7 linked regions of the Homo sapiens genome follow. The protein of the gene in region 1 interacts with the protein of each later gene in a pairwise test. Each region holds a gene or a part of one and is shown on either strand. Other genes may lie near its edges.

The links.
Region 2: the proteins of ARAF (region 1) and PBK interact in binary tests that used the Homo sapiens proteins (3 or more experiments, as listed by UniProt).
Region 3: the proteins of ARAF (region 1) and NUDT14 interact in binary tests that used the Homo sapiens proteins (3 or more experiments, as listed by UniProt).
Region 4: the proteins of ARAF (region 1) and ASS1 interact in binary tests that used the Homo sapiens proteins (3 or more experiments, as listed by UniProt).
Region 5: the proteins of ARAF (region 1) and PRPF6 interact in binary tests that used the Homo sapiens proteins (3 or more experiments, as listed by UniProt).
Region 6: the proteins of ARAF (region 1) and COPS3 interact in binary tests that used the Homo sapiens proteins (3 or more experiments, as listed by UniProt).
Region 7: the proteins of ARAF (region 1) and CPS1 interact in binary tests that used the Homo sapiens proteins (3 or more experiments, as listed by UniProt).

What each region holds. Positions count from the first base shown.
Region 1 is NC_000023.11:47,564,045-47,568,296, forward strand, and holds part of ARAF (serine/threonine-protein kinase A-Raf), read left to right. Parts: intron 1-752; coding exon 753-855; intron 856-940; coding exon 941-1,095; intron 1,096-1,198; coding exon of another isoform or gene 1,199-1,207; coding exon 1,208-1,306; coding exon of another isoform or gene 1,307-1,310; exon of another isoform or gene 1,311-1,931; intron 1,932-2,594; coding exon 2,595-2,736; intron 2,737-2,839; coding exon 2,840-2,867; intron 2,868-2,941; coding exon 2,942-3,087; intron 3,088-3,185; coding exon 3,186-3,388; intron 3,389-4,252. UniProt on the Homo sapiens protein: Involved in the transduction of mitogenic signals from the cell membrane to the nucleus. May also regulate the TOR signaling cascade. Phosphorylates PFKFB2.
Region 2 is NC_000008.11:27,820,431-27,824,682, forward strand, and holds part of PBK (lymphokine-activated killer T-cell-originated protein kinase), read right to left. Parts: intron 2,776-4,252; coding exon 2,633-2,775; intron 2,059-2,632; coding exon 1,889-2,058; intron 265-1,888; coding exon 135-264; intron 1-134. UniProt on the Homo sapiens protein: Phosphorylates MAP kinase p38. Seems to be active only in mitosis. May also play a role in the activation of lymphoid cells.
Region 3 is NC_000014.9:105,171,963-105,175,651, reverse strand, and holds the end of NUDT14 (uridine diphosphate glucose pyrophosphatase NUDT14), read left to right. Parts: exon of another isoform or gene 1-164; intron 165-2,390; coding exon 2,391-2,631; 3' UTR 2,632-2,713; downstream 2,714-3,689. UniProt on the Homo sapiens protein: Hydrolyzes UDP-glucose to glucose 1-phosphate and UMP and ADP-ribose to ribose 5-phosphate and AMP. The physiological substrate is probably UDP-glucose. Poor activity on other substrates such as ADP-glucose, CDP-glucose, GDP-glucose and GDP-mannose.
Region 4 is NC_000009.12:130,478,911-130,483,162, forward strand, and holds part of ASS1 (argininosuccinate synthase), read left to right. Parts: intron 1-805; coding exon 806-890; intron 891-1,474; coding exon 1,475-1,539; intron 1,540-4,252. UniProt on the Homo sapiens protein: One of the enzymes of the urea cycle, the metabolic pathway transforming neurotoxic amonia produced by protein catabolism into inocuous urea in the liver of ureotelic animals.
Region 5 is NC_000020.11:63,994,470-63,998,721, forward strand, and holds part of PRPF6 (pre-mRNA-processing factor 6), read left to right. Parts: intron 1-446; coding exon 447-623; intron 624-857; coding exon 858-1,013; intron 1,014-4,252. UniProt on the Homo sapiens protein: Involved in pre-mRNA splicing as component of the U4/U6-U5 tri-snRNP complex, one of the building blocks of the spliceosome.
Region 6 is NC_000017.11:17,245,531-17,250,413, forward strand, and holds the end of COPS3 (COP9 signalosome complex subunit 3), read right to left. Parts: intron 3,510-4,883; coding exon 3,396-3,509; intron 2,031-3,395; coding exon 1,950-2,030; intron 1,622-1,949; coding exon 1,568-1,621; 3' UTR 1,086-1,567; downstream 1-1,085. UniProt on the Homo sapiens protein: Component of the COP9 signalosome complex (CSN), a complex involved in various cellular and developmental processes.
Region 7 is NC_000002.12:210,559,221-210,563,472, forward strand, and holds part of CPS1 (carbamoyl-phosphate synthase [ammonia], mitochondrial isoform b precursor), read left to right. Parts: intron 1-4,252. UniProt on the Homo sapiens protein: Involved in the urea cycle of ureotelic animals where the enzyme plays an important role in removing excess ammonia from the cell.

The sequences.
Region 1 (4,252 bases):
TGAATTGTTTATTTCTGCAATTTTCAATTTAATACTTTCCCACCCGGTTGACCACAGGTAACTGAAACCATGGAGAGTGAAACCACAGATAAGGGAGGACTACTGTAGTTCAAGTAATCTATGAGTTCATCCATCTTTTGTTTTGTTACTTCATTGGTTTATTGGCCTGTAAGGTCAGCAACTCATTCTCCCCTGGCCCCCAAGTCCTCACCCTGGTCCATCACTTCTGCCCAGATTTCATCTATTTTGTCCTTTCACGATGTCATGACTTCATCAGGTCTCTTCTTCCTCATTTTCCCCATTCTCTGTCTGCTGAGTTGGGTCTTGCTGACTTTATTTATTCCTCTCTCGTGGGTTTCCTTAATTTATGATGCAGTTCACACACTGCACTTTATTTGTTGTTTCAGTGCCTCCTCAGCCCCCTTTTCAGGGGCTGGCTTAGCGCTTCTAAGATGTAGTTGTTTAGTTTCATTTGCTTCTCCCCTTCCGTTTCAGAGCATGGACTCTTCACACCGTCATGCCTCTCATTACCCTTGTGGCCCAGGGCCAGTCACTTTATCCCTCTGAGCCTGTTTCCCCATCTGTAAAGTTGGGGCAAGGATAGTGACTAATTTCTAGAGTTGCTGTGATGAGAATTAAACATGCCAGACATGACCCTGTGGGTAGCAGGCTTGGAGGGACTTGTGGGGGTTCCCTGCCTCCCCATGGCCCCTACCCAACCTCCCACTCATTCCTTTCCATGCCCCCTGCAGACGAAAGACGGTCACTGCCTGGGACACAGCCATTGCTCCCCTGGATGGCGAGGAGCTCATTGTCGAGGTCCTTGAAGATGTCCCGCTGACCATGCACAATTTTGTGAGTGCAGGGTGGACGGTGGGGGTGGACCATGGTTGGGGGTGTCCTTGACCAGGTCTCAAACTTCCCTGCTCTGTGGCATCAGGTACGGAAGACCTTCTTCAGCCTGGCGTTCTGTGACTTCTGCCTTAAGTTTCTGTTCCATGGCTTCCGTTGCCAAACCTGTGGCTACAAGTTCCACCAGCATTGTTCCTCCAAGGTCCCCACAGTCTGTGTTGACATGAGTACCAACCGCCAACAGTGAGCCCAGCCTGGGGTGGGTGGGGGGATGGGGAGCACAGAGGCCCAGCCACGAGGCCCTTACAGACAGCTGACCCGTGTCCCCTTGCTTTATACCCTTCATGCCCTCAAGGTTCTACCACAGTGTCCAGGATTTGTCCGGAGGCTCCAGACAGCATGAGGCTCCCTCGAACCGCCCCCTGAATGAGTTGCTAACCCCCCAGGGTCCCAGGTAGGGATGCCTTAGCTGAAGAGCTGCTGGGGGAGAAAAAGATCTTGGGGCTCTTGTAGACCACGAGCCATACTTTATTCATTTGTTTACTTGACAAACATTTATTGAGCACCTACAAGTGTGAGTAAGGGCATGAAACTGGGACCTTGGGCAAGTCACCTCATTTCTCTGGGCCTCAGTTTTCTCATCTGTAAAGAGGGGATGATGATACTTTCTACCATATAAAGGTTCTGGTGAGGCTTAAATGAGTTAAGACATGTTCAGTGCCTAGAACAGGATCTGGTACAGTGTAAATAATCAATTTTTTTGTTATTAATTATAAATATATTTATAAGCATCTAACTACTTTGCTAATTCTAGTATAATCATACTCAAGCCTTTCCATTTTGAAATACGTATTATTTTATCATAAATTACTTCCCTTTTATTGCTTTTTTATGTTAAATATTATATAAAACTATAGCTATATTAAAATATATTATTGCTCTAATATATATTTTATGATGTGCATATTTTATGGTATATTTATGTTATTGTATCATGTTGTATTACATAATTTTATATAATGTAGAACATCATACATGTTTATATGATACATAAAATAAAGTTAGGGTATTATTTTAAATTATGAGTGTATGTGCATTAATTACCTTTGAGTTTCATTTCAGGATAGTGAAGGGAACATTAACATATTTTTGTAACTTTACAATATGTTTAGCATATATCATATGTATAACATGTATGTATAACAATATGGTAATATGTATATTTTAAAACATTGCCATTTTTATATAGATGATACATATTATATAACATTTGAAAAGTACATGTAATTATAATATATAATTATAAAATATGATACATTACCCTTTCCCCACTATCTGTGTGGCCTGCTATCCTGCCTTTAGGCGTTTACTCCATTGTCATCTCCTCCTCAGAGAAACCTTTCCTGACACTTTCTAGGAACACTTTGTGTCTCCTTATTTTGCTTTACTATTTTTCTTTATTGCACCTATCACCATCAGGCATATTATATATTTGTTTTTTATTTCAGCCCCACCAGGGCAAGAACTGTTATTTTGTTTTACAGTTTTATCTCCACCACCTAGAATGGTATCTGGCACACAGCAGGCACTCAATAAATGTTTCTTGAAGCAATGAATAATAGTACTGCCAGTGGACATTCGCTCTGTGTGAGCCAAATGCATGTTTATGGCTGGGGGTGGGGTGGGGGGCTTTCTCGGTTCTCTGATTCCTGGCAGTGATTTCACAGCCTTTCCCCTGGCAGCCCCCGCACCCAGCACTGTGACCCGGAGCACTTCCCCTTCCCTGCCCCAGCCAATGCCCCCCTACAGCGCATCCGCTCCACGTCCACTCCCAACGTCCATATGGTCAGCACCACGGCCCCCATGGACTCCAACCTCATCCAGGTTGGTGCTGTGGGGGACAATGCCGGGGACCACAGGGCAGAGGGTAGAGCCATCCCTGTTGGCCTCCATGCCCTCTTTTTGACTCCTGTCCCTCTTCTTCTAGCTCACTGGCCAGAGTTTCAGCACTGATGGTGAGTCCCCTGTGCCTGCACCCTGACCCCCGCTGCCCCACTTACCTCCACTCACATCCTCTCTGCAACTGCAGCTGCCGGTAGTAGAGGAGGTAGTGATGGAACCCCCCGGGGGAGCCCCAGCCCAGCCAGCGTGTCCTCGGGGAGGAAGTCCCCACATTCCAAGTCACCAGCAGAGCAGCGCGAGCGGAAGTCCTTGGCCGATGACAAGAAGAAAGTGGTATGCTCGAGGGGGATCCTTTTGGGGCCACCAAGGCTGAGTGACGTGGGATGAGGGATGTGGGCAGGCCTCTTAGATGCCACCCATCTGGCCCACAGAAGAACCTGGGGTACCGGGACTCAGGCTATTACTGGGAGGTACCACCCAGTGAGGTGCAGCTGCTGAAGAGGATCGGGACGGGCTCGTTTGGCACCGTGTTTCGAGGGCGGTGGCATGGCGATGTGGCCGTGAAGGTGCTCAAGGTGTCCCAGCCCACAGCTGAGCAGGCCCAGGCTTTCAAGAATGAGATGCAGGTGCTCAGGTGAGGTGGCATGTGTGCGTGGATGGGGGTGGCAGGCCCGGCCTTGGCATCTCTCTGGGAAAAGGCCATGCTTGGAGTGCTTCCTGGACATCACCTGTGTTTGTGTTGTTAAACCATCATCAGAAGTTGTTTCTCTCTGAAGGGTGTCCCTTTCCCCTCTGGGAAATGAGTATGTTTAGAGGACCTGTGATCATGCAGTTGTTTGTGTTTGGGTTATTAATGAATGGTTCTGCCTCCAAAATGTGGGTCTTCTCATTTGCCTGCTGCGAACTGGGTCTGTGTGTGGGCCACCATTCTTGTTACTGCATTGCCAGGAAGGCTTCCATCTTTCCTTCCCCTCTGCTTGGGCTACAATGGTAATGTTCTGTTTATAGTGTTGGTTCTTGTTATTCATTAATTCTAATACCTTGATTTAAACAATATTATCATCATCACCATAATCTAATCATTGCTTAATTATTATAATTGCTGTAATATGTAATCAATACAGTATTCATCTAGTCACGCTAAGAAAGCCAGGTGTCTCCTTTTTGCTGCTATAGTTACTATGTAGCATAGTACTGTATACCTATATACTACAGGTAGTACTGGATAGCGTCTACCAACCCTGGGGATGTTGGCATTGGCTTTTCCTCTGTGTCAGATGGGCACAATTATGTTACAGAGAATAAGGTAGCTAATGCAATGATCAGTTTTACAGTTGAGGAACATGAGGCCCAGAGAGGTTAAATGTCTTTCCCAAGGTTGTACCTTGAGTACCTGGTGAGGCCTAGATTTGAACATGAGTCCAGACTCCAAGCTCTTTACCTCTAAGCTTCTCATGCTGCTGAACAGGCTCTAATCATCATATATCACCAATGTTTT
Region 2 (4,252 bases), on another chromosome or scaffold:
GAGAAAAAAAGGGGACTTTTTACCATATACTTTTTAAAAATAGTTTTTGATTTTTGATCCATGTGGACTTACGTATTTAAAAATGTAAACACTGTATTAAAAACAAAATTTTAAAACTTAAGAGTACAACTTACCAGTCATATTTTCATCCAGTGGTAGAGAGACTCCTACATCACAGATTTTAATTGTTTCAAAATCGCCTTTAATTACAACATTTGAAGACTTTATGTCTCCATGAAGCAGTTTCTTTTCTTGGTGCAGATACTAAAATAGTAAAAAATTTAACACATATGTGCAGAAACACAAACTAATAAAAAAATGTGATAACCTCCAAATATAACAACTTGAACTCCCTTCCTAAACTCTAGGTTTACATTTGTCCAGCGTTTCAAAATTTTTTTTTTTTTTTTTAAAACGGAGTCTCACTCTGTTGCCCAGGCTGGCATGCAGTGGCACGATCTCGGCTCACTGCAACCTCCGCCTCCTGGGTTCAAGTGATTTTCCTGCCTCAGCCTCCCAAGTAGCTGGGACTACAGGCGGGCACCACCACACCTGGCTAATTTTTGTATTTTTAGTAAAGACGAGGTTTCACCATGTTGACCAGGCTGGTCTGTCTCGAACTCCTGGCTTCAAGTGATCCGCCTGCCTCAGTCTCCCAAAGTGCTGGGATTACAGGTATGAGCCACTGTGCCCAGCATTTCAAAGTATTTGAAACAAGAGAAGGGAACATCCCATGTTATCTCAGTCTGCCATACTGACCAGAAGTCTAAAAGTTTATTTAGAAATAGATACTTCTGCTAACCTTTTATACTTATAAAATAAATAATTATAAGTTAACTATTTTTTTCCAAGACAGAGTCTTGCTCTTGTTGCCCAGGCTGGAGTGCAGTGGCGCGATCTTGGCTCACTGCAACATCTGCCTTCCAAGTTCAAGCGATTCTCCTGCCTCAGCCTCCCGAGTAGCTGGGATTACAGGTGCCGCCACCATGCCCGGCTCATTTTTGTATTTTTAGTAGAGATGGGGTTTCACTATGTTGGCCAGGCTGATCTCAAATTCCTGCCCTCGTGATCTGCCTGCCTTGGCCTCCCAAAGTGCTGGGATTACAGGCGTGAGCCACCACACCCAGCCAAGTTAACTATTTTTATATATAAGTATGTATATATACCGACAGCTTATAAGTTAACTATACTTATAAATTGGTTAACTTGGTAAGTTAACTAATCCTACATACTTTATATCAGAAGATACAACTGCAGATTTCAAAAGATACCACAATTTTGAGGCTAGTCTAGTAATTTTTAGAAATAATTTTGGAATCTTCAGTGAAGCATACATAAATTGTTGAGACCATGTGGGACAATGAATGACTAGGGCCACATGTACGTATAAGGATGTTTTGGTCAATGATGGACAACATATACGACGGTGGTCCCATAAGATTATAATATCATATTTTGATTTTACCTTTTCTATGTTTTGATATGTTTAGTCACACAGTACTTACCACTGTGTTACAACTGCCTATAGTATTCAGTACAGTAACATTCTATACAGGTTTGTGGCCTAGGAGAACTGGGCTATATATACCACATAGCCCAGGTGTGTAGTTGGCTCTACCATCTAGGTGTGTGTAAGTACACTCTATGATGTCCGCACGCACAGTGATGAAACTGCCAAATGACACATTTCTCAGAACATATTAAGCTACACATGAATGTAATTTGGAAGCAGAAATGTAAGCCTCTATTTTGTTTTCCGCTAACCCCTTTTTGGAACTGACAAGTAACAATATCCATCCACATTCAAAGATGTCCTGCAAAGTGATTATTTGTTCATTTAAAATATGAACAAAAACAGAAGTCATTTAAAATATAATGACATAGTTACCTTTAACCCTCTTGCCATATTCAAAGCAACTTTTAAAATTATGGCTGCTGGAAAAGGATCTTGGCTGGCTTTATATCGTTCTTCTATTAAGTCATTTAGAGACTTTTCACCTCCATATTCCATAGCAAGACACAGACTGCCATCATTGGCTTCAGTAAAAGCACGATAACCTTAAAGAAAACATGACATTTCTTCACTAATATAGAGAAGAACAATAATATTTAAGTCCTTTATAGTAACGTGATTGAAAATATGGATCTGGACTAACGCTGACAAATATACAATGAAACAGCTACTATTTACAAGACTAATTCAGTAGATCTCATTTAAAATGCCTTCAGTGTTTGCCAGTAGTACCACAAATTAAAATACTTTTATTTTCCTTTGCTTCCCTAAATATAATAGTTTCACCAGCCCTACTTGTATTAAAAATGAAAAATGAAATCCAGGAAATTACCTAAATGGATTTAAATTATCTAAATGAAGATCATTTTATATTCTTAAAATCTTCATAGAACTAGCAACATAATTATTATATCTGTTCTCATGAAGTTTATATACTTAGGCATCAAAAAATACTATATGCAAATTTTTATTTTAGACCAATCACATTAATTTGATACCCATTAAATATCCAGCCCCATCCTCTTCATTTCTATTAGTGAAACCAGTTAAGAGAGCATATAAGCTGTTTCTGAATAAACAAAATAATATACCAGATACTGCTACCAAATTTAAACGTACCAACAATGTTTGGATGATGAAGGCTTTTCAAAATCTTAGCTTCATCCATTAGTCTCTTTTGATACACACTTCGATAATGATCATTACATATAGGATTAATCTTTTTTACAGCCCAAGGAGAATGAGACAAACCTCTTGGAGATCTAAGAAAAAAATTCATTTAAAAAGGATAGAAAACAATAAAACCACAATACTTTTTAAAATGACTTCCAAATTTTTGGGAAAAAGCTTGAAAGAAATTTGCTTTTAAAAACAGAATTTAAAATAGTTTGGACTATGAACACCTCTGCTACATTTCCATTTCAATTGGGAGGTAAGATCTAATATACTAAAACAAGTCTTACTATCTATACTGTGGAAGGGAGAGGATGAAAAGAATTTGAAGGGTAAAGATGGAATGTTACAAACTTTAAACCTGAAAATTGTAACTTTCCAATTTTTCCATTTGAGCATGTTGGACTACAACTTATTAAATATTTAATTATATGTATCAGAGATGAGTTATAGGATCCTGAAGAAAAAAACATTAGGAAATTTAAAGAAGAGATAATCAAGAACATTTTACCCATATATCATCATCCAAAGAACAGCATGCTGTTCTTATTGCTCCCCTACACTGACCAATTCACCTTATACCTTTTACCACATGCTCAAAGATATGTGCTTAAGGAGATAATGATGAACATACAAATGAGAAAATTTTAAACTTTCTATTTTCTAGGAAGATTCAGCCATTTTACAAATATTTAAGGTATAAATGTTTTAAGGCCTAAATAGGTAAAATAAAGTCAGGGAAAGGTTTACCTGAGGTGGTAGATATTTATGAGTAGAGCAAATCACAAAATACTTAAGTATATGCAGCATAACAGCACAAAACCTAGTGAAAGAGCCTCAGAAGTTTAAGACAGAAAGTTTAATGGTAAGAACACAAAACAAGAGATTGAATCAAAGATCTGTTTAGCTTTGGACTCCCTCACAGGTATAGCTCTAAGACTGCAGAACCTTTTTTGTTTAATCAAAAAGCCTATACTAAAAGGATCACAAGATTTCTTAATTCATGTACATCTATCATCCGTAAGTTGATCTAAACTATTCTTAAACCTCCAGTTTTAAATAACAGCAGCATTTGAGGATAATGATGAGCACCTGCATATCATTTTATTATGAAAAATATATTTTTCAAATTTCAAGGGTTGAAAGTTTAGCTCTTGAAAGTTTAGAATTTAGTAAACAAGTCAATCTTCACCTTTTCCATAACATATTCTAATCTATCGAATAAGAATAGATTTATGAAATCTGAATACTCAACCATGCAAAAAGCTGGTTCATTAAAAAGACTAATAGAAAAAAGGCAAATTTCTGATGAGATTACACAAGAAAAAATAAAGACAATATCACAAATAAAAATGGAAACAAAACTACAGATACAAGAGAAAAAATATGTAAGTAAATAAAATCTTTATGCAATCATTTAAGACAAAATGGTCAAAGACTTAGAAAAATCTAAGAAAACTGATGAATGAAGAAATTTAATCACCAGTTTAAAATGTTCCTACTAGAAATACAAAGTGCAGATGATTTTACAGGTGAGTTTACTAAGCTTTCAAAGAATTTACCATT
Region 3 (3,689 bases), on another chromosome or scaffold:
GAGGCAGGCGGATCACCTGAGGTCAGGAGTTCGAGACCAGCCTGACCACATGGAGAAACCCCGCCTCTGCTAAAAGTACAAAATTAGCCAGGCGTGGTGGCAGGAGCCTGTAATTCCAGCTACTCAGGAGACTGAGGCAGGAGAATCGCTTGAACCCAGGAGGCGGAGGTTGCGGTGAGCCTGAACCCAGGAGGCGGAGGTTGCGGTGAGCCGAGATCGCGCCATTGCACTCTAGCCTGGGCAACAAGAGCGAAACTCTGTCTCAACAAAACAGAATTTCCATGCCGAAGGGTGGACTTGGGTGTGAAGGATGGGCCTTGGTTTTCTGCAGGTGTCTACCCCGTGGTGGGCCACGCCCACTGTGCCCCCAGCTCCCCAGCCCATAGTACTGAGCACAGCCGGGAGGCATGGGAGGGGCTGGAGTCCCCTTGGTCCCCCTGGAGGAGGTGGGCCTGGGCAGGTTCCTGGCAGAGGGACCGCACAGGCTCTCAGGGCAAGTGGTCAAGCAGCCCTGGCCGCGGTGGTTCTACTGGTACAGCCTCTGGGCCACAGCCTGATTGTGAGGGTGCTGGGGAGCCAAGGAGGGCTCTGGGAAGTAGGCATCCTGCTTAGACTCGCATCGGGAAGAGCAGGCCGTGGCTTCAGGGATGCAGGACTGGAGATGCTGCTGACTAGGGGTCAGGGTGTCCGTCTCTGAGGGCCTGATGGGGGGCTGGACTGACAGCAAAGTTCACCCACCCTGTGGCAGGGCCCGTGGCTCCCTGTCTCTGATTCTGGAGGTGAGCCAGGCCTCTTACCTGCCGCTGCAAAGGACAAGGCCCAGGGAGGCAGTCAGCTTGGGGCGTGATGGAGTGAAGTTGGAACGTGCCCTGGGGTGGGGGAGGCGTTGCCCAGCCTGGCTGGCAGATTCCTCTCAGCCCGGGCCAAGGGCCGGGCCTGTCTCCTTCACAAGCCGGCGGAAACCGGGGCTGGAAACCCCAGACCCGCCACTTCCCTCAGAGGCGCAGCCGCGGCCGCCGCCGGAAATGGGCCATCAGGAAGGGGTCTGCGGGAGGTGAGGGGCTAGAGGGCAAGGAAGCAGCTGGGTAAGGTCGGTCTGGGGTGAGTCCCCCCGGAGGTGGGGAGGCCTTGGGGGTGGGGCATGGAAGCCCCCAGTTCTGTCCCTGCCCCTGTATGTTGGGTACATCTCAGAGGGCGGCCTCTACCCTGCAGGCCTCCGGCTGGCCTTGGTTCATGGCACCCGACAGCCCCTCCTGCGGCGAGCCAGGGCTCCCCCACCCCCTGGTCATCTTCCCAGATGCCCCTCAGTCCCGTTTCTCCCCAGATCCACACCTGGCCCTCCCCCTCCTGTTCCAGAATGCAGCCCAGCCCCTCTGCCATCCTGTCCTCCTAGCCCGTGGTCTCCCTCCACACACGCCAGTCCAGGCTCCTTCCCTTGGTGCCTGACCCCTCCTGGCTGCCAGCAGCCCCCTTCTGGCCACTGCCCACTGAGGGAGGGGGCTTCCTCTTACCCCTCCCCAGCCTGGGCCACTGGGCCTGGTACTGAGGACCTCGCTGCCACCCCACCCCACTCTGCCATGCTACGGGGGGTGGGGGGGCGGTCAGTGCATGCTGTTCCTAGTCTGAAACTTGTGTCCTGTGGGTGCCTGGTGGGGAACCCTTGCGGGAAGGCCTGGTGGGTTTGTCCCTGCTTCCCAGCCAGCCTGTGTCCCCGGGTATGGGCTGGGGTCTGGCATGGGCCTCTGCAGCTGGCCACAGACTGAGGGGCTCCAAACAGCACTGGGAACAGCCTCAGGGTATCTGGTTGGGGGCTGCAGACAGGGGTGGGGTCTTCTGCTTGGCCTTGACAGGTTGCAGGCAGGTTGTCAGCCGGATCTGCAATCTCATGGGGGCTTGGGGTCTTCCCGGCTCACGAGGTTATGGCAGAATTCAGCTCCTGGTGGCTGGGGACTGGGTCCCACCTCCCTGCTGGCTGTTGGCCCTTCCCAGCATGGCGGTTGCTTCCCCTTCAGGGCCAGCAGGACTGGCCTGAATTTCTCCCTTTCTGGCGTTGAAACACCCTCTGGAGGGCTTCGTGATCGGGCCATGCCCGCCTAGGATGCTCTCCCTTCTGATGAGCTCAAGTCACCGGTTAGGGTCCTTAATCACATCGACAACACCCACCCCACCTGGCGAGTACAACGTGATCAGGGAAGGGATGCCCTGCTGCGGGAGGGGCCACGGGCGTGCACACCAGGTGGGAATCCGGGTGGGAGAGGGCATCCCAGAGTCCTGCCTACTGGAGGGCTGGAGGGAGCAGAGTGGAGAGGGTGGGTTGGAGGGTGGTAGAAGGGCCAGGGGGCCAGCGGGGCCAGCGTGGGTGACTCAGCAGACCCTGTCTCAACCCGTAGGTCTGGAGTGGGACTGACTGGCTCCAGACAGACCATGTTCTACACAGAGGTGACAGATGCCCAGCGTAGCGGTCCAGGTGGGGGCCTGGTGGAGGAGGGTGAGCTCATTGAGGTGGTGCACCTGCCCCTGGAAGGCGCCCAGGCCTTTGCAGACGACCCGGACATCCCCAAGACCCTCGGCGTCATCTTTGGTGTCTCATGGTTCCTCAGCCAGGTGGCCCCCAACCTGGATCTCCAGTGAGACTCCAGGGTTCTAGACAGAGGCCAGTCTTGGCCACTCACCCCACACCCCGCGGACCCCAATAAAGGCTTGCATAGCTCCAGCTTCTGCCTGCTGGTTCTGAGCTCTGTGACCAGGGCCTTGGAGAGGACTGGGGAAGGGGCGGGAAGCAGTGACCCTGACCTGAGATGGCCCTCGGGACACGGCGAGCTCTCCTGTAGGAGGAGTAGCTGGTGGCAGGCCATGCAGGTGGTTGCTGTGGGGCTGAGGACAGGCCTGGGGATGCCATGGGCAGGGCCAGGCTGTGCCTCCTCTTGGAGCTGGGAGGGGTGGGGTCCGGGACTCATGGAGGGTGGCATGGCAGGCCTGGGGGTGGGCCTGCTGGTCACGGGGCTGCAGCATGAGCTGTGCTCACGAGAGTGGTGGCTGAGCCAGTCCTCAGGAGTTAGGATGGGGTGGGCAGCACTGCAGGCTGCACGCTGCAGGGAAAGTATGTTCCCTGCTCCTGGGGCAAGTGAGGGGTCCCCACCCTGACTGGGGCTGGGCTAGAGCCACTCCACAGGAGCCCGGAGCCAAAGCTGCCCTGTGTCGGGGGCCCCAGTAGCTGATCCGTGCACCCCCAGCCTTGGAAGTTTTCCAAGGGACCTTCCTCGGCCTGTGGGGTATGCAGAAATGTCTGCAGGCTTGCTCCAAGAGGAGCAGGTGGCGGCACAGGGTGGGGACACAAGGCCAGTGGTCTTGACATGGGCCAGGTTCCTGGTGCCAGCCCGGTCCTGGTCCCGGGGCACGGCCTCAGCCTGGGCCGCCCAGCACCAGGCTCTACTGGCCCCTGAGCATCTCTGGCCTGTATGCCCTGGCCTTGCCTTCTGACCTGTCCTGAGGGTGGGGCTGTGGGAGATGCGTGCAGCTCAGAGCTGCTCCCCAGGTGCCCAGAATGCTTGTGAGGCAGGAGGGGACCCAGCTCGCCTGGTCTGCTTCCTGGGCCACAGGTGCACAGTAAGGGTTCTGCAGGTGAATGGGTGTGTTGGCACTGGTTGTGGGCATTCGAGGGCACTGCTGGGCCATCAGTCTGCGGCAGG
Region 4 (4,252 bases), on another chromosome or scaffold:
GATTGGCACCCGATGGCTCGCTCCATGGTAATGAGCCGGGCAGATGGGTGGGGGATTAGCCGCCAACTTTGAACAGCTTTTCTTTGTCACTGTTTCAGCTCTCTTGTTAGCCCCAATACATTTATTGCTCATTTCACACCGCTCGAGAAAGTGCCCCTTGCTATTCAAAGTCAACCCCGAACCCACCCACTGCCCCCACCCAACCCCTTCCCTCCTGCCACCCCGGACCCAGCTCCTCGGATTCAGGGACGCTGCCGACACCTCGCCTGCTGGAGCGGGCACCGTGTCACCCCCATCAATCAGATGGCTGCGTGTGGGTCTGGGGTACAGGGTCGGGGCGCGGGGTCCGCCTGACAGACGTGGCAGGGGGCTGTGTGTGTGTGTGTGTGTGTGTGAGCGAGTATGTGTGTGCTTGAGCCCAGCCACACCTCGGCCAGGCGGCCCCCGGGTGACTGGTGGGACAGAAGGTGCTCCCGGCGTAAGACAATGGTGGAGCGTGAAATTCAATTAGTTCAGGGCCTGGTTCCAATTTCACAGCCCCTAAATGCAAAAGGGGCAAAGAGAATGGGAGGGTGGGGGAGAGCGTTTTTATTGCATTTTCTCTTTCATTCTGGGGGGCTTTCTCGCCCCTTCTCTCCCTGCAGCAGGCCTCAACCTGCACAGGGCTTTTGAAGGAGTCATTTGGAGTCCATATCTGTCACATCCATTTAAGGCGTTTCGGGAGGAGGGAGAGGGTGGGGTGGCGGGTGCAGACTCCTCCGCTGAGCCGGGCCCAGAGGCCCACTGCCCTCTCTTCCCACCCTAGGGGTCCCTGTGAAGGTGACCAACGTCAAGGATGGCACCACCCACCAGACCTCCTTGGAGCTCTTCATGTACCTGAACGAAGTCGCGTGAGTGTCTGCAGCCCTGTCCGGCCTCTTGGGAACCGCCGTCTCGGGCGAGCACGAGCCTGGACCGTTGCAGCTAATGGTTGTGGCTGAGGCTCAGGGGTGCGGAGCACAGGCCATGTCCCTTCCCCATAGCCACAGAGTTTCCCGGACCAGGGGGACCCATTTGGCAGGAGAGGCTCCGTGGTCCTTAGCCTTGGAAGATAACAACCCCAGGAGGTCTCCTGCCTCCAAGGGATCATTAGGCCGGGGCTCTCAGGCCCTTGGCTGGATGGGAGGCCAGGATAGAAGGAAAGGGAGCAGTAGTTAGCTGTGGCGCTAGGCAGGGCCCCAGGACACAGGGAACGGAAGGAACAATGTGAACTCACACCTGGGCAATCCCTGCTCTCTCTGGGCCTCAGTTTCCCCACCTGTCCAGTGGGCACCTGGACTAGGTGACCCGGCTCAGATGTCCTCTTGAGTCTTAGATCCTGAAATGCTGCCTAATGTGTGGCCTAAGCTGTGCCCACCCTGGGACAGCCCAGCTGGGTGGGTGACTCTGAGCCTTGCGGTAGCGCCCGAACCTAATGGACCAGTTCTTCCCACAGGGGCAAGCATGGCGTGGGCCGTATTGACATCGTGGAGAACCGCTTCATTGGAATGAAGTCCCGAGGTGAGTCTGCTCAGCCTCCCTCAGGGCCTGCCTCGGGACCCAGCAAACCCAGAGATCCCTGAGACCCTGTCCCCTTTGGACGCTACTACCCCCATGCTCCGTGGGCGACCTTGGGCACGTCCTTTCACCACACCCCGTGAGACCGCAGTTTCCCTCCTGCCAAGTGGGGATCGTGGGCCCTTTGCCCCTGACTTTCAGGGTGTTATGAGAAGAGCTGTCCAAGGGCTGGGAGAGGCCCAGGAGGGCCTGGGGAGTCTCCGAGGAGCAGGGAGGCCAGGGCCAGGCCTGGAGGTCAGGCTGTCTTGTGTCTGGGGTGGGCAGGCCGGGTGTGGAGGCAGACCGTGCAGGCCCGATTTCGTGGTCATTAAGGCCGCATGGAGGCCGCCGGCCAGGCAGGGCGAAAATCCTGCCAGGGGTGGGCGCTGTGGCTGCACAGGCACTGGGAGCCGGCCAGGGCCTAAGGACCTGTCCCAGCATCAGGCACGGCTCACTGGCCCTTTTCTCCAGGGATGGGGCTGTGCCACAGTTGGGGCTGTGCCGCAGTTGAGGCTGAGCTTCAGTGTGACATGCCTGCCACCTCGGCTGGCCTCTAGCCTGCCTAGCCTCGTATCCGCCTGTGGCTGGGCCCAGGAGCAGGGCAGTTGGTCCCCAAGCAGGTGCCTCTGTCTTCTCTTAGTAGCCAAAGCCCATGATTCCCTTTGTCAGCCAATCAGCATTTCATCTTGACCACAACCCTCCTCTCCAGGACTCAGTTTCCCCATTCATACACCAAGGGGATCTCAGCTCCCTGAGGGTCTGCCAGTGTGTGATAAAGCCATGCTGTGTTCTTTCTTGGGGGTCCTAAGAGGGAAAGAGCAAGGTTTCAGCAGTTGCAGCCCCTGAATTGGGCACCTGAATTTTTATACTGGTGGTGGGGTCAGGGCTTCCTGTTTCGGTAAATGTTCAGGTCTCTTTGCTTAGGGTTGATTTGAAAAGATACCACAACCAAATATCACCTGGCCACGGTATAGTCACGGCCCCATGTCTCTCAGGCTATTTTTACTAAGATTCTAAAATCCAAAGAGAGCCGATCACCCCATGTGGGCCAGAAGAAAAGGGTGGTGGTCCGGAGGGCAGGATGCCTGCTTCTGGTCTCAGGTTTGCCCTGCCTTGCCCAACAACCTTGGACTTGTCATCTATCGCTAGGCCTCAGTTTCCCCAAGTGTAATGCGGTAGGCGCTGGGAGTTGCATCACTCTGGCTCTGACCTGTCTGCGTTTCCCTGGAAAGGCATGGCAGCATGGACCGGGGCGGGGACGGGCTTGCCTCGAAAGACATGGGAGCGCGGAAGGGGAGGCAGGCTCGCCTCTTTCTTGTGGCTTTAGCTCCTTGCTTGCTGTTATTCAGGAGAAACAACCTAATTGAAGCTCTGGGGAGGCCTTGAGAACAATGTTACTAATTAGCTGCTCCTTTTTATCCGGGCTTACCTTTGTCTCTTACCTATATTAACATGTGATTAGATGCCCCTTTGTCGCAGCCTGCCCTTGGGAGCCAGCGCGGTGTGCACCCTCCAGGGAGAGCTGGGAGGGACCTTGAGGAGCCACAGACCAGCACCCCATTTACAGATGCGGAAGCCAGGGCTGGGGAGGGGTGGGATAGAGGGCTTGCTTCAAGTCCCAGGCACTTTAGTGGCAGGACCAGGACTGCCATCTGGGCCCAGAGTGGCATGGAGTGGAGGGCTAACAGCTTAGACTGGAGTTGGACAGATCTGGGTTCAAACTCATGTATGGTGGCAGGAACTGGTACACTGGAAGTGCTCCATAAATAGCCATCAGTCCCCCGGGCATGTGGAATGGGGACAGAAGCAGCCCCCATCCTCTGGGAGCTGTCAGTGTGGCGGGGGGTGGGGTGGGTTCCAGTATTGCACCTGTCTTATCATAATAAGGGCCTGCCACAGGCATGCCCTTGCCATGCCTGTGGCAGGCATCACCAGTCAATGCTGGCATTATCCTGTTGACTCCAGAGGTATCTCAGGGCTGCTTGCAGGCACTACCAAATGATCAGGATTGGCATACGTGATGAAAGTGTATTGCCTTCCCTATTGGAAAGATAAGGACTGGCCTGAAGTCACTGTGAAATGGCATCCTGTGGGGTGGGGCGAGTCAAGCAGAGTTGAGCAAAAATGAACTGAAGGAGGTGGTTAGTGATGAAAACCTGGAATGCACTATTCTGAATGTGGAATGGTAGCTGACAGCATTCCACGGAGGCTGGACCTTTTTCCCAGAATGGGGGCCTCATCCCCGTAGAAGGTCAAAGCCATGAGATCAACAGTCTGTTCCAATCCCCGTGGCTCCTTACCACCCACCTGGGGAAAGCTTCCTGGAGCCCAGCCTTCACTCTGCCCTGGTACTTTGTGTGTGCTGTTGGAGGCTCTCCCCAAAAGCACAGAATTTAGTCAGTGTCGTACAGGGAAGAAAATCGGGATTCTGACGGCAAGAACTTGCTGTGTGATCTTAGGCAAGTTTCTCCCTCTGGAACTCCAATTGTCAAGGGGCCAGATGAGGAGGTCGTATCATCTCCCTCTGAATGTCCTCACTCACCTATTTTCTTGCTTTGGGTTGGGGAGAGAAGACAAAGTTGCTAGGTAATTTTAGGGTGGTGTCTTGTTTTTATTTCTCTACTCCAAATATTTCATGTGAGAAGGAAAGAGGAGAGACGGTAAATTAGGGCACTGT
Region 5 (4,252 bases), on another chromosome or scaffold:
TCTAAGTGAAGTAGAAAACTATTTTTGGGGCTGGGTACAGTGGCTCACATCTGTAATCTCAGCACTTTGGGAGGCTGAGGTGGGAGGATCACTTGAGCCCAGGAGTTTGAGACCAGCCTTGGGGAGAACCTGTCTTTACAAAAAATAAAAACTTAGCCAGGCATGGTGGCCCACGCTTGTGGTCCCAGCAACTTGAGAAGCTGAAGTGGGAGGATCACTTGAGCCTGGGAGGTTGAGGCTGCAGTGAGCTGTGATTGTGCCACTGAATCCAGCCTGGGCAACAGAATGAGACCCATCTCAAAACAAAAGTAAAAAACAGTTGCTGCATCCAAATCCCTTCTAAAGCTTGGTGATCTGGAGGCTAGGGGTGAGAGAGGGCATGGTCCTACCTGGGCACATGAAATTCTGTCAGAGAATTAATGTTTTTGGGGGCTGGATATTTCCAGAGGAAGTTGGCAGAAGTCACAGAAGAAGAGTGGCTGAGCATCCCCGAGGTTGGCGATGCCAGAAATAAACGTCAGCGGAACCCACGCTATGAGAAGCTGACCCCTGTTCCTGACAGTTTCTTTGCCAAACATTTACAGACCGGAGAGAACCATACCTCAGTGGATCCCCGACAAACTGTGAGCTTCCAAAAAAGGGCACATGTGGCCCATTTAGTCCTGTTAGATCAGTGGCAGGAATGGTGGGTGGTGTTGGATTCAATGCTTCTGCAGGTCATGGCTATGCTGTGGCCGAGTCTGTCTGCACAGCTGTGCATATGTCAGGCCACTGGGGAAGTATTTCAGAGAGTAAATTTCTTGGGCATGCAGTGCAAACCGTTGTTTTATTCTTGCCTTTCCTCTCTTCCCCTCCAGCAATTTGGAGGTCTTAACACACCCTATCCAGGTGGACTAAACACTCCATACCCAGGTGGAATGACGCCAGGACTGATGACACCTGGCACAGGTGAGCTGGACATGAGGAAGATTGGCCAAGCGAGGAACACTCTGATGGACATGAGGCTGAGCCAGGTGAGTTTGTCACACAGCATTTTCCTGTGGACAGGTTTAGACAGTTTAATTTTGTTTTGTTTTCTTTTTCTCCTTCTTCTTCTTCTCCTTTTTCTTCTCCTCCTTCTCCTCCTCCTCCTTCTTCTCCTTCTCCTTTTTTTTTTTTTGGCTTGATTTTTGCCTGAATAATTCCGCAGATTTTTAAAATTTTGACCCAGAGTCTTGCTGTGTCACTCAGAGGCTGGAGTGCAATGGTGTGATCTTGGCTCACTGCAACCTCCACCTCCTGGGTTCAAGTGATTCTCCTACCTCAGCCTCCTGAGTAGCTGGGATTACAGGTGCCCACCACCACACCCGGCTAATTTTTGTATTTTTTGTAGAGACGGGGTTTTACCATGTTGGCCAGGCTGGTCTTGAACTCCTGACCTCAGGTGATCTGTCTGCCTTGGCCTCCCAAAATGCGGGGATTACAGGTGTGAGCCACTGCACTTGGCCTTTTTTTAAAATATAAAATAATAATTTTTTAAAAAGTGTGTTTTTTTCCTGCCTCTCAGTAAATTGTCTTGTGGCCCTGCATGGAACGTGTACTTTGATCTGGAGACTAGGTGCTCTAGACACCAGTGAAGTACAGAACTCTTTCTGATATGCATATCAGATACCACGAAGGAACATACTACTTTTGGCCTGGCCAACATGGTGAAACCCCGTCTCTACTAAAAATACAGAAATTGGCCAGGTGTGGTGGCGGGCGCCTGTAATCCCAGCTACTTGGGAGGCTAAGGCAGGAGAATTGCTTGAACCCGGGCGTTGGAGGTTGCAGTGAGCCGAGATTGCACCAGTGCACTCCGGCCTGGGCAACAGAGTGAGACTGTCTCAAAATAAAAAACAAAAACAAAAACAAAAAGTGGCACAATCATGGCTGGCTACATACAGCCTTGACCTCCCTGGGCTAAGGCGATCCTTCCACCTCAGCCTGCCAAGTAGCTGAGATTACAGGCATGTGCCACCATACCCAACTAATTTTTGTATTTTTTGTTGAGATGGGGTGTCACTAGGTTGCCCAACCTGGGCTGGAGCTCCTGGGCACAAGTGATCTGTCCGCGCTGGCCTCACAAAGTGCTGGGATTACAGGTGTGAACTACCATGCCCAGCCTGAAATTTGTTTACATAGAAATTGTAAAACTTTTTGGGCCAGGCACTCATGCCTGTAATCCTAGCACTTTGAGAGACCAAGGTAGGAGGATTGCTTGAGGTCAGGAGTTCAAGACCAGCCTGGGCAACATGGTGATGGTGAGACTCTGTCTCTACAAAAACTAAAAGAAATAGCTGGGCCTGGTGGTGCCTGTAGTCCCAGCTGTTCGAGAGGCTGAGGTGGAAGGATTGCTTGAGCTAGGGAGTTTGAGGCTGCCATGAGCTATGATCGCGCCTCTGCACACCAGCCTGGGTTACGGAGTGAGACTGTCTCAATAAATAAATAAAACTGTCACAGTAATTTTTTTGTGGTAAAATATATGTAACACAGAATTTACCATTTTAATCATTCTTGACTGTACATACCTTCACTGACATAATTATGTTCATGTTGTTATACAACCTCATCACCATTCATCTCCAGAACTGTTTTCATCTTCCCAAATTGAAACTCCGTACCTGTTAAACATTGAGTCCCCGTGCGCTTTCTCCCCAGCCCCTGGCATCCACCGTTCTCTCTGTTTCTATAAATGTCACTACTCTCTGGATCTTATATGACTGGAATCATACAGTATTTACCTTACTGTGACAGGCTTATTTCAATTAGCTCATGGTGCAGCATGCGTCAGCATGTTCTTTTTTTTTTTTTTTTTTTTGAGACAGAGTCTCTCTCTGTCACCCAGGCTGGAGTTCAATGGCATGGTCTTGGCTCACTGCAGCCTCCGCCTCTCGGGTTCAAATGATTCTCCCACCTGAGCCTCCCAAGTAGCTGGGACTACAGGTGTGCACCACCAAGCCCAGCTAATTTTTTTTTTTTTTTTTGAGACGGAGCCTGGCACCGTCACCCGAGCTGGAGTGCAGTGGTGTGATCTCGGCTCACTGCAACCTCCACCTCCTGGGTTCAGGTGATTCTCCTGCCTCAGCCTCCCGAGTAGCTGGAACTATAGGCGTGTGCCACCATGTCTGGCTAATTTTTGTATTTTTAGTAGAGACGGGGTTTCATCATGTTGGCCAGGATGGTCTTGATCTCCTGACCTCGTGATCCACTCGCCTCAGCCTCCCAGGATGCTGGGATTAGAAGTGTGATTTTTTTGTATTTTTAGTTAGAGATGGGATTTCACCATGTTGGCCAGGCTGGTCTCGAACTCCTGACCTCCAGTGATCCACGTGGCTCGGCCTCCCAAAGTGCTGGGATTACAGGCATGAGCCCCGGCGCCCCGGCCAGCATGTTCTCAGTTTAAGGCAGGATGAGACTTGACTCTTTGGTGTGTGTGGACCGCATTCGCTCATCTATGTAGACCGCATTCGCTGACCTGTTTATTCGCTGACGGACACTTGGACCACTTTCACCTTTTGACTATTGTGAATAATGCTGCTGTGAATACGGGTGTACAGATATTTGTCAGAGACCCTGCTTTCTATTCTTTCTTTTTTAATAAAAATTTTATTTATTTTTTTTTGAGACGGGGTCTTGCTCTGTCACCCAGGCTGGAGGGCAGTGGCGTGATCTCGGCTCACTGCAGCCTCTGCTTCCCAGGTTCATGTGATTCTCCTGCCTCAGCCTCCTGAGTAGCTGGGACTACAGGCATGTGCCACCACGCCTGGCTAATTTTTGTATTTTTAGTAGACACGGGGTTTCACCATCCTGGCCAGGCTGGTCTCGAACTCCTGATCTTGTGATCCACCCACCTTGGCCTCCCAAAGTGCTGGGTTTACAGGCGTGAGCCACCACGCCTGGTCAAAAATTACACTTTTTTTTGTAGAGACAGAATCTTGGGAGGCTGAGGCAGGAGGATTCCTTGAGCCCAGGAGCTGGAGGCTGCACTGAGCTATGATTGCCACTGCACTCCTGCTTGGGTGACAGAGTGAGACCCTGTCTCAAAAAAATAAATAAAAATATAGATCTTGGACAGACGCGGTGGCTCACGCCTGTAATCCCAGCACTTTGGGAGGCCGAGGCGGGCGGATCACGAGGTCAGGAGATCGAGACCATCCTGGCTAACACGGTGAAACCCCGTCTCTACTAAAAATACAAAAAAATTAGCCAGGTGTGGTGGCGGGCGCCTGTA
Region 6 (4,883 bases), on another chromosome or scaffold:
CTTGCTCTTGTCACCCAGGCTGGATTGCAGTGGCATGATCTTGGCTCACTGCAACCTCCACCTCCCGGGTTCAAGCGATTCTCCTGCCTCAGCCTCCTGAGTAGCTGAAATTACGGGCACCCACCACCATGCCCGGCTCATTTTTTGTATTTTTAGTAGAGATGGTGTTTCACCATATTGCCCAGGCTGGTCTCAAACTACTGACCCAGGTGATCACCTGCCTTGGCCTCCCAAAGTGCTGGGATTACAGGCGTAAGCCACTGCACACAGCTGAGGTTTCTTTTTTAAATAATGAAAATGTGCCTTACCAGACAACTTGAAACATTTTAAAAACTGAATGTTTGTAGTGAGAGAGATTTTTTTAAGGAACAAATTTGATGTGTTTTAACCTGACCACACTTTATTCTGCTCCACACCATTCCAGGGCTAAATCAGTAAATCCTAGTCCAAATTCCTGTGACAGGAGAGGCCCTGAACATAATCAAAATGCAACTATCAGTTTACCTGATATGCTTTGACAAGAAAAAGTGGGAAAGCCTGCCATTTGTCTCTTAAAAACTGTAAGTTGAGAGGGGGAGAAAAGCCATTTTCAAGACTACAAAAGTGTAGCACCCACTAAAGGTTGGAAAGTGCTTTTGACACCACCTGGACAACATGGCAAAACCCCATCTCTACAAAAAAAAAAAAAAAAAAAAAAGGCTGGCTGTGGTGGTGCTCGCCTGTAGTCCCAGCTACTTAGGAAGCTGAGGTAGGAGAATCAGCTGAGCCTGGGAAGTTTAGGTAAGCCATGATGGCACCATTGCACTGCAGCCTGGGTGACAGAGACCCTGTCTCTTAAAAAAAAAAAGAAAAAAAAGTGAAGCACCAATGGCATCTCATAATCCACAACTCATACTCTCACTAATATGCATGTTAATTTTAATTTTAAAAATTAGCTTATGCCTCAGGGACGCTCCTACCCTTTTTTTTTTTTGTAAACAGAGACAGGGTCTCACTATGTTGGCCAAGGTGGTCTGAATTCCTGGCCTCAAGCAATCCTGCCTCGGCCTCCCAAAGTGCTAGGATATTACAGGTGTGAGCCACTGTGTCTGTCTGGCCTTTCTTTTCTTTTATTTTCTGAAGACAATGATTACAACTTTTAGATTTTTTTGTAGATACAAATTTGTCAATAAATAAAAACCTTTCAGATCCAAATCTTCCAAAAATTCCTAAAATCCAGCTATTTCTGTTCACAATGAATGTGCTTATTAAAAACTTCAGAGGAGAAAAAAGTGATACAGAAGACACATTAATGTTCAAGCAACTTAAAACAAAAAGGTAGATTTAATGCAGTAACAATAATCTGAGGATAAATAAATCCACGACAGACTTTAAAGTTTGCAAATCTGTTTCCTTTCTTTGCAGAGAAAATGGTTTTCTGAAAGCACACAGGACTGAAGATGTCAAAACAAAACTTAATTTCTTAGTCTCCAGGTGACACAGGCTTGGTCCTCTCTGCTGCCCTCCGAACACTTGTCACTGGCCAAGATGGTAGTTTCTCTTGTTTAGCTCAGGATGGATGTTAGTTTCAAGAATAACTGGATGGTTTGTTTCCTGAATCATCTTCTTGTGAGCCCATACTCTGTAAAGGTAAAGTGAAGTTATGTATTTATGTTTGCTTTTATCAAGGGTTCCCCGGCAGCCCAATAAGCACACCAGTTGCCCTGTCCCTCCCAGAACAAAGCCCCCTGTGAACAAGGGCAGGCAATTCCAGGAACCACCCTAAGCATCCCTAAGTGTACTTCCAGGCCATCATTTGAAAATGCTCTCAACTAGTATTTCTCCATGACCGTACTGGTAAGGTTTTCAAGAAATATTTAATAACCTGAAACTTAGTTCCTGTGCCTGATGTGACAACACCCCTCCTTCTCCACCCAGCCTACTTCTTGTAATAAGGGAACCCTCATCACCTTTTGTACAAACTGAGGGTTCACTGTGATCTCCTGGTCCATGGCTTTCAGCCGCTCATCCAGCTCAATGCACTTCAGCATCTGCATGACAGGCACATTAGAAGGTGGTCAGCGGCGGGTTTAGGTCAGCTGCATCCTTTCTAACTTACACTGTTCACAAGGGTGCTATAGGTTCACAATCTCTTGATGTGAAACCCCTGGGGCCACATGGGTTTTGGAGCCAGAGTATTTTGGACTCAGAAAGCTAATACATCTATCATATAATACCAAATATCCCACCCAGCAGGATCTAGGCAAACCTCATAATCAAACACATAGTATCTTTTGCAGTGAAACGAGTATATTCATGCTGAGATAAATGAAGACTAGACACCATTTCAGGTGACATTTTGCCATTAAATTAATTACAAAAAAACATAGTTTTCTGAGATTTAATATTCAGTTCACTTCCCTGCTCAGAGGTAAGAAACACAGACCACCCACAAAACTCCCCCTTCAGCCCCCAGAATCAGAGGCAGCATGCCCTCAGGAGACACAGAGGTGACTGCTGCAGCTGTAGCCAGGCTGTTGCCTAAAGGGGACCGTCAGGGAGGGCTTTGCTCTTCTCCTCCAGCCACCCCGACTCTGCTTCTCACATAGGGAGAGATGTTTCCTAACCTCCCAACCTGGAACTCCACAGACATTTCAGCAAAAACATAAGGCTCTATGTTGTAGGTGGCAGCTGGGAATAGATAAAGTTATACTGGGCCCTTTAAGTGTTTTCACAGTTAAGGGAGGTTTTGATGAGTTAGCTGGGATATCTAACCCACCATTTATTTACAGCCATACAATCTGAGAGAGTTTTGTTTTTTTGAGACAGAGTCTCCCTCTGTTGCCCAGGCTGGAGTGCAGTGGCGCAATCTCAGCTTACTGTAACATCTGCCTCCCAGGTTCTAAGAGACTTTCCTGCCTCAGCCTCCAGAGTAGCTGGGATTACAGGCGTGCACCACCACACCCGGCTGATTTTTTATTTTTTTTAGTAGAGACGGGGTTTTGCCATGTTGGGCAGGCTGGTCTTGAACTCCTGACCTCAGCTGATCCACCCACTTCAGCCTCCCAAAGTGTTGGGATTACAGGCATGAGCCACCACACCCAGCCTGGAAGAGTTTTAAGCAGCCCATTCTGGGTTTCTTTTGTTGTTGTTGCTGCTTTTCTTGAGACAGAGTCTTGCTCTGTCACCCAAGGTGGAGGACAGTGGCACAATCTCGGCTCACTGTAACCCGTCTCCAGGGTTCAAGCAATTCTCCTTAAGCAGCCCATTTTGAAACTAACTTTCTAGTAACTAAGATGTTCACAGACTGGGAACTACCTGTACTTAAAACTAAAATTATCCTGGAACATAGGAGCAATTTTCAAATACATCTCAACCATCAATTAAAAAAATAAAAACCTGGCATTCATGTTTACCTCCTGATCAATGTTATGAAGCATGGCTGGGTTATTATATTTTTCAGGGTTATCATGGAAACTGACCATACCGTCCTTCTGGTTAATACTTGCAAAAATCTCACCATCTTCTATCTGCAGAAAGAAAAAAAAAAAAATCAGGAAAGCAGTTTAGACCTGAATGCTATATGAATAGTCATCCAGTATAATCACAGAAAAGCATGGAAGGCAACATGGATATAAATAAACTTGTATATTTTTAAGCGCCATCTGTTTATCCAAGTATTTATTAAATACCTACTATTTGCTAGGCACCATTATAGATGCTAAGAGGTGTAAAACTGATACACACAAAATCCCTGCCCTTGCATTTTTGTTATTGAGGTGAAGTCCACACAACATAATTAACCATTTTATTTATTTATTTATTTATTTATTTGAGATGGAGTCTCGCTGTCCCCCAGGCTGGAGTGCAGTGGTGCGTTCTTGGCTCACTGCAACCTCTACCTCCGGGGTTCAAGCAATTCTCCTGCCTCAGCCTCCCAAGTAACTGGGATTACAGGTGCCCGCCACCACACCAGGCTAATTTTTTTGTTGTTTTTTTTGAGATGGCGTTTCGCTCTTGTTGCCCAGGCTGGAGTGTAATGGCACAATCTCGGCTCACTGCAACCTCCGCCTCCTGAGTTCAAGCAATTCTCCTGCTTCAGCCTCCTAAGTAGCTAGCATTACAGGCATGCACCACCACGCCTGGCTAATTTTGTATTTTTAGTAGAGACAGGGTTTCTCCATGTTGGTCAGGCTGGTCTCCAACTCCCGACTTTAGGTGAGCCATCCGCCTCGGCTTCCCAAAGTGCTGGGATTACAGGCGTAAGCCACCGCGCCCAGCCATTTTTTTGTATTTTTAATAAACACGGGGTTTCACCATGTTGGCCAGGCTGGTTTCGAACTCTTAACCTCAAGTGATCTACCTGCCTCGGCCTCCCAAAATGCTGGGATTACAGGCATGGGCCACCACATCTGGCCTACCTTTTTAAAGTGAGCAATTAATTGGCATTTAATGCATTCTACAATGTTGTGCCACCACCATCTCTATCTAGTTCTGGAGCATTTTCGTCACCCCAGAAAGAGGCCCTAGGCCCATTAGCAGTCCCTCCCCATTCCCTCCTTCTCCTCCCAGCCCCTGGAAACCACCAATCTGTTCTTGTCTCGTATGGATTTGCCTTTTCTGGATATATGAATGGAATCATATACTATGTAATCTTTTGTGGTCTGGCTTCCCTTAGCATGATGTATTTGAGGTGCCCTTGCATTTTTCAACATCAGCTGCACTGAAATATAACTTACATCGCCTTTTTTTTTTTTTTTTTTGAGATGGGGTCTCGCTCTGTTGCCCAGGCTGGAGTGCAGTGGCTTGATCTCTGCTCACTGCAACCTCCACCTCCTGGGTTCAGGGGATTCTCCTGCCTCGGCCTCCTAAGTAGCTGGGACTACAGGTATGTGCCACGATGC
Region 7 (4,252 bases), on another chromosome or scaffold:
TCACTTTAAAGGTTAGTAGCATTATGTCCAGTTATAGATGGTAAATGGATTGGGAAAGACACCCTGTAGTCACATCTATAATCATTGCCCTGTAAATTGGGTTGCTTTTTCGACATATTTAGAGGTTTGCTTTTCCTCTCTCTTTGATGACAGAGACGGTGGGTTTGACGACAGCAATGACGCACTTATAATTTTATGTGGCCCTTCCCTGGGTATTTGTCAGCGGCTAATATTTATAGAGTGCTTTGCCAATCGGCACAGTTGTATTTTACTTACAGGAAAGAGGAAAGAATTTCAAGGTGCTCTATATTTTAAAGAAAGTTGATATCAAGGGTATAAATGATCAACAACCATAAAATACTAAATACTAAAAAGTTTTAGATACCATAATCTTTTTCCATTAGTACTGAAAATGTTCAGCACTCATTATTACATTCAGCAGGCTGTAACAGTGTAATAGTGGGATATACTCTGGATTGGGCACAAAAAGATCTGGAATCTAACCCCTGTTATGCATTTCCTAATGCCCTGTTCTTGGACAAGTCACATATTCTCTGAACCTAAGTTTTGTCATCTGTATAGTGCAAATGATGACTGATTTACTTGACAAATTATGTGATTGTCACACATGAACAATTCTCAAAAATCTTTAAAGTTTTAAATTTAAACCATTAAACTGAACATTTTAAAGCAAAAACTGGATATTTAAAAAAAAATTCCATTCTATACATTTTAGTAGAAGGACTTAGTAGAGGGTTAGATCAAAGAGTCCTTATGTTTTTTATGGACTACAAGTTGTTGCAATGACAAGGTATTTGATAAGAATTCTCAAATATTTATAATAATGATTTGTTCACCTTTGCCTTAATATTAAACATCTCTAAGAAGATATTTCTTATAATAAATCAGACTCAAGGAAAATGAAGCAAATAATCTTTTTTTTTCAGTATGGCAAATTTAATTCCAAAAGGCAGAATAGACACCATAATAACCTATTTCATTCATTCATTCATTTATTCTTTAATAAACACGGAACCTCTACCATGGGAGTATACAGGAAGAATGATAAATAGAAATAAGTGGATCATAAGAGTATAGTCTCTGATTTCAAGAAACTTACAGACTTCAGAATTCTGAGTTCACAAGTCTGGGAAAGTCATCAAAGCTAAATAGTTTTATTTTTACTTGCAAATGAATTTGGAAATCAAAAGTATTAAATTGTAAAGCTTAAGTTCCCTATGAATAGAAAAGTGTTCAATAAGTACTCCTTCTAACATTAATCCACTCATTTTTTAACAATGGTGACCTGTGTTATAATTAAGCTAGGAACCTAACAATCCAAGTGTCCTCTCTGATACTTCAGCTACGAATGAGCACTGGTAGTCATTATTTCTTTTGAAAGGCATTCATTTTTAAGATTTTATATTCTGATTTTCACATAGAAGTATCTATTTAGTTCCGTCTTGAGGAGCTATTGTCATTTGATTAGAAATTGGCAACTATAAAAACTCCTACAATTAGAATAATTTACTTACATTGTAGTAGCTTTAAAGATAGTCACAGGAAATATAACTCATTATCATATTGGAGCCTCTGTACACGTTAGATGTAAGAGTGGGGATGGGGTTATCACACACTTTTAAGAATAACTATTTTATTGGACTTTTACTACATATAGACACATTTTAGGACGGATTTCATCTATGGCAAACTACATTTTTGAAATATTAATTGTGTTCAGTCCCAAATGAGCTGTTGCAGAATTAGTTTGCCTGATGGACAACTTTACATACTTTTGGCATGCAATACTTCTCTAATTGGGAGATGGCCTTTCTTTTGAACATTTTAATTTTTTCCATTTTTTATATCCCCAATTTTCTAAAATATAGATTCATTTATTAGTCACCAACAACGCCTTGACATTATGAGCTTCTTGACATAAAACTCTTGAAAAAACTATAGTTTAAATGTCCTAGACTAGGTTAAGTGAGTGAGGTACCTGAGATGCAAAATTTAAGGAGGCTGTCACTGTTAGTGTCATGGTGTATCTCTTTGAGAGTTAGGCCCTAAGCACATCACTCAGTACCCTAGTCCCAGCTTTGGGTCAGAAGCTAAGCATTCTGGCTGTAGAACTGCCCAAGGGACTAGTACTAATCTTGACCTGTGCTTTCCTCTCCCTCATTCCAATTTGCTCATGTCTAGCCAGACTTTCTGACGATCTAGAGGTGACATTAGGTCTTATTGCTATGGAAATGGAGACTATTCCTCTGCCTTTACATCTGTATTAGACTTTCTTCATATTTCCAACCTGTTCCAAAAATTGAGGGGTGCTGTAGAAAGTTTTCAGTATCTCTTAGGCAATGGGCATGCTAGAATTCACTTCAAGCCTTCAGGAGGAGTTTGGTATGCTACGCTGACTGCCCTTGATGGGATTTGTATTTCCTGGGGCATTTGCAATGACGGAGGCCCGAAAAAAGCTGCGCGGGCCAAGGTCAAAGTTTGTGTTAGGCTCCTTAGCCCTAGGGATCTTTAGCTTCCATTTGATTTTCTTCATGTGATCTAAATGAGTTGAACTTATAAAAATATTTTCAAGGCTACTCTGTTTGCTTTTTATTTTTTTCAACTTGTTAAATGCTATACATTGATCTTTTAAATTTCATAGGGAGGTAACTGACTAATTTGAAGTTCTCATAAATGAATCAATAGGGTTGCTACATTATGAAAGAATTTTACTAAGTTTCTTCTATAATGCAGACTGAAATATAAGACCATTTTAATTTATCACCACCATACAGTAAAAATTAGCTTATGATATGTAGGTTCCTCCAGGATTCTGAACAACTTGCCACATAGCAGATGCTCAGTAAGGCATATTAATAAACCTACACTTTATGAACATACTTTGTAATGAAATTTTTATAAATGCTGTATTTTATTTACAATGAGAAACCTTATTAGAATAAAAATGATTCATAAATCTTAATCTTTTGTTTATAAATGTTCAAACATAAAAGTACTTAAGTAAATTAACCTTTTGATTTTGTCCCCTTAACATTGGCTTATGTTTAACCAAAGACCGATGACTTAATATTAACTTGGAATGTTGTAAGATTATTAACTGAGAATGTGGTAAGGCCTAATTGATTACTGCTGTTACAGTGCTTCAGAATTTTGAAGTGTTAGGCCTTGTAACTGCAGAGAAGTCTCATGAAATATTTCAAAGACAAATTGTGCTGAAATTCTAAATTTCAAAAATCCATATCTTAATAGTGTAATTCCAAGAATAAAAGAATAAGATTTCATTTACTTGATTTTAACTTTTTACCATATTATCTACACAATAATTACCTGAAATAAATTCTGGCTTTAGGCTTTCTACTTTTCAGTGCTTAGTTCAGATTTATTTTTTAAGAGGATGAGTACTGAGGCGAACTAATAGCTTAGAAACATCAGGTAAGCCAGAAAGCACGTATGTTATATAGCCTTAGGCCTTGGTGAAAATGGAAAAAAAACATGTGGGGCCTCTACTTTTTCTGAAGTGCAAATAGTTTACGTAGATAAATGATTCAACAGCAATACCATAATCCCAGAGTAAATTATTTTCATTTTTACTACTAGCTCAAGGGAATTACTGACTTTTAAATGGTGTTTTTTTTTTTTTTTCAAACCTTTTATGGAATCTATTGCTGAATTAGCTTAAGGCTTTACAGGCAGAACATTTTAGTGGTGGAGTCTCATATCTAGGAGAAGAAACATTTCTGTTCCTCCCATTTCACAGATATGTAAGTGCTGAAGTTAAAACAAGGACACATGGATGCCTGTTTTTGTACGTAAAACAAAATATACATTAGCAAATTTGGTTAGAATTTTAATTAGGCTTCAAACAACAGATGGATCTTTTTAATTTGAAGTTTTGTTATTGTACTTATATACCCGATGCCATAGTTGTGTTTAACCTGGCTTCAGAATGTTCTAAGTCATTTCTTCTGCTGTTATTTTATTGCTTACTCAAGGGCTCATTTACATACTGAATGTTATGGCAATACGACACAAATTTGATTTTTCCTTTTCTTTTTTTGAGAATAGGTTGTTTAAATCAAAGCATAAGGAAGGATTCTTGCTTTATATGGCTGTCAACAATTATATAAATAGGACATTTTAGGGCAATGCTGTTTACAGTTGACGTATTTCTTCCATTTCAACCTAAATATTGTCATGTGTTTGTAACAAAACATGCTGTTTTTCAGTTTCA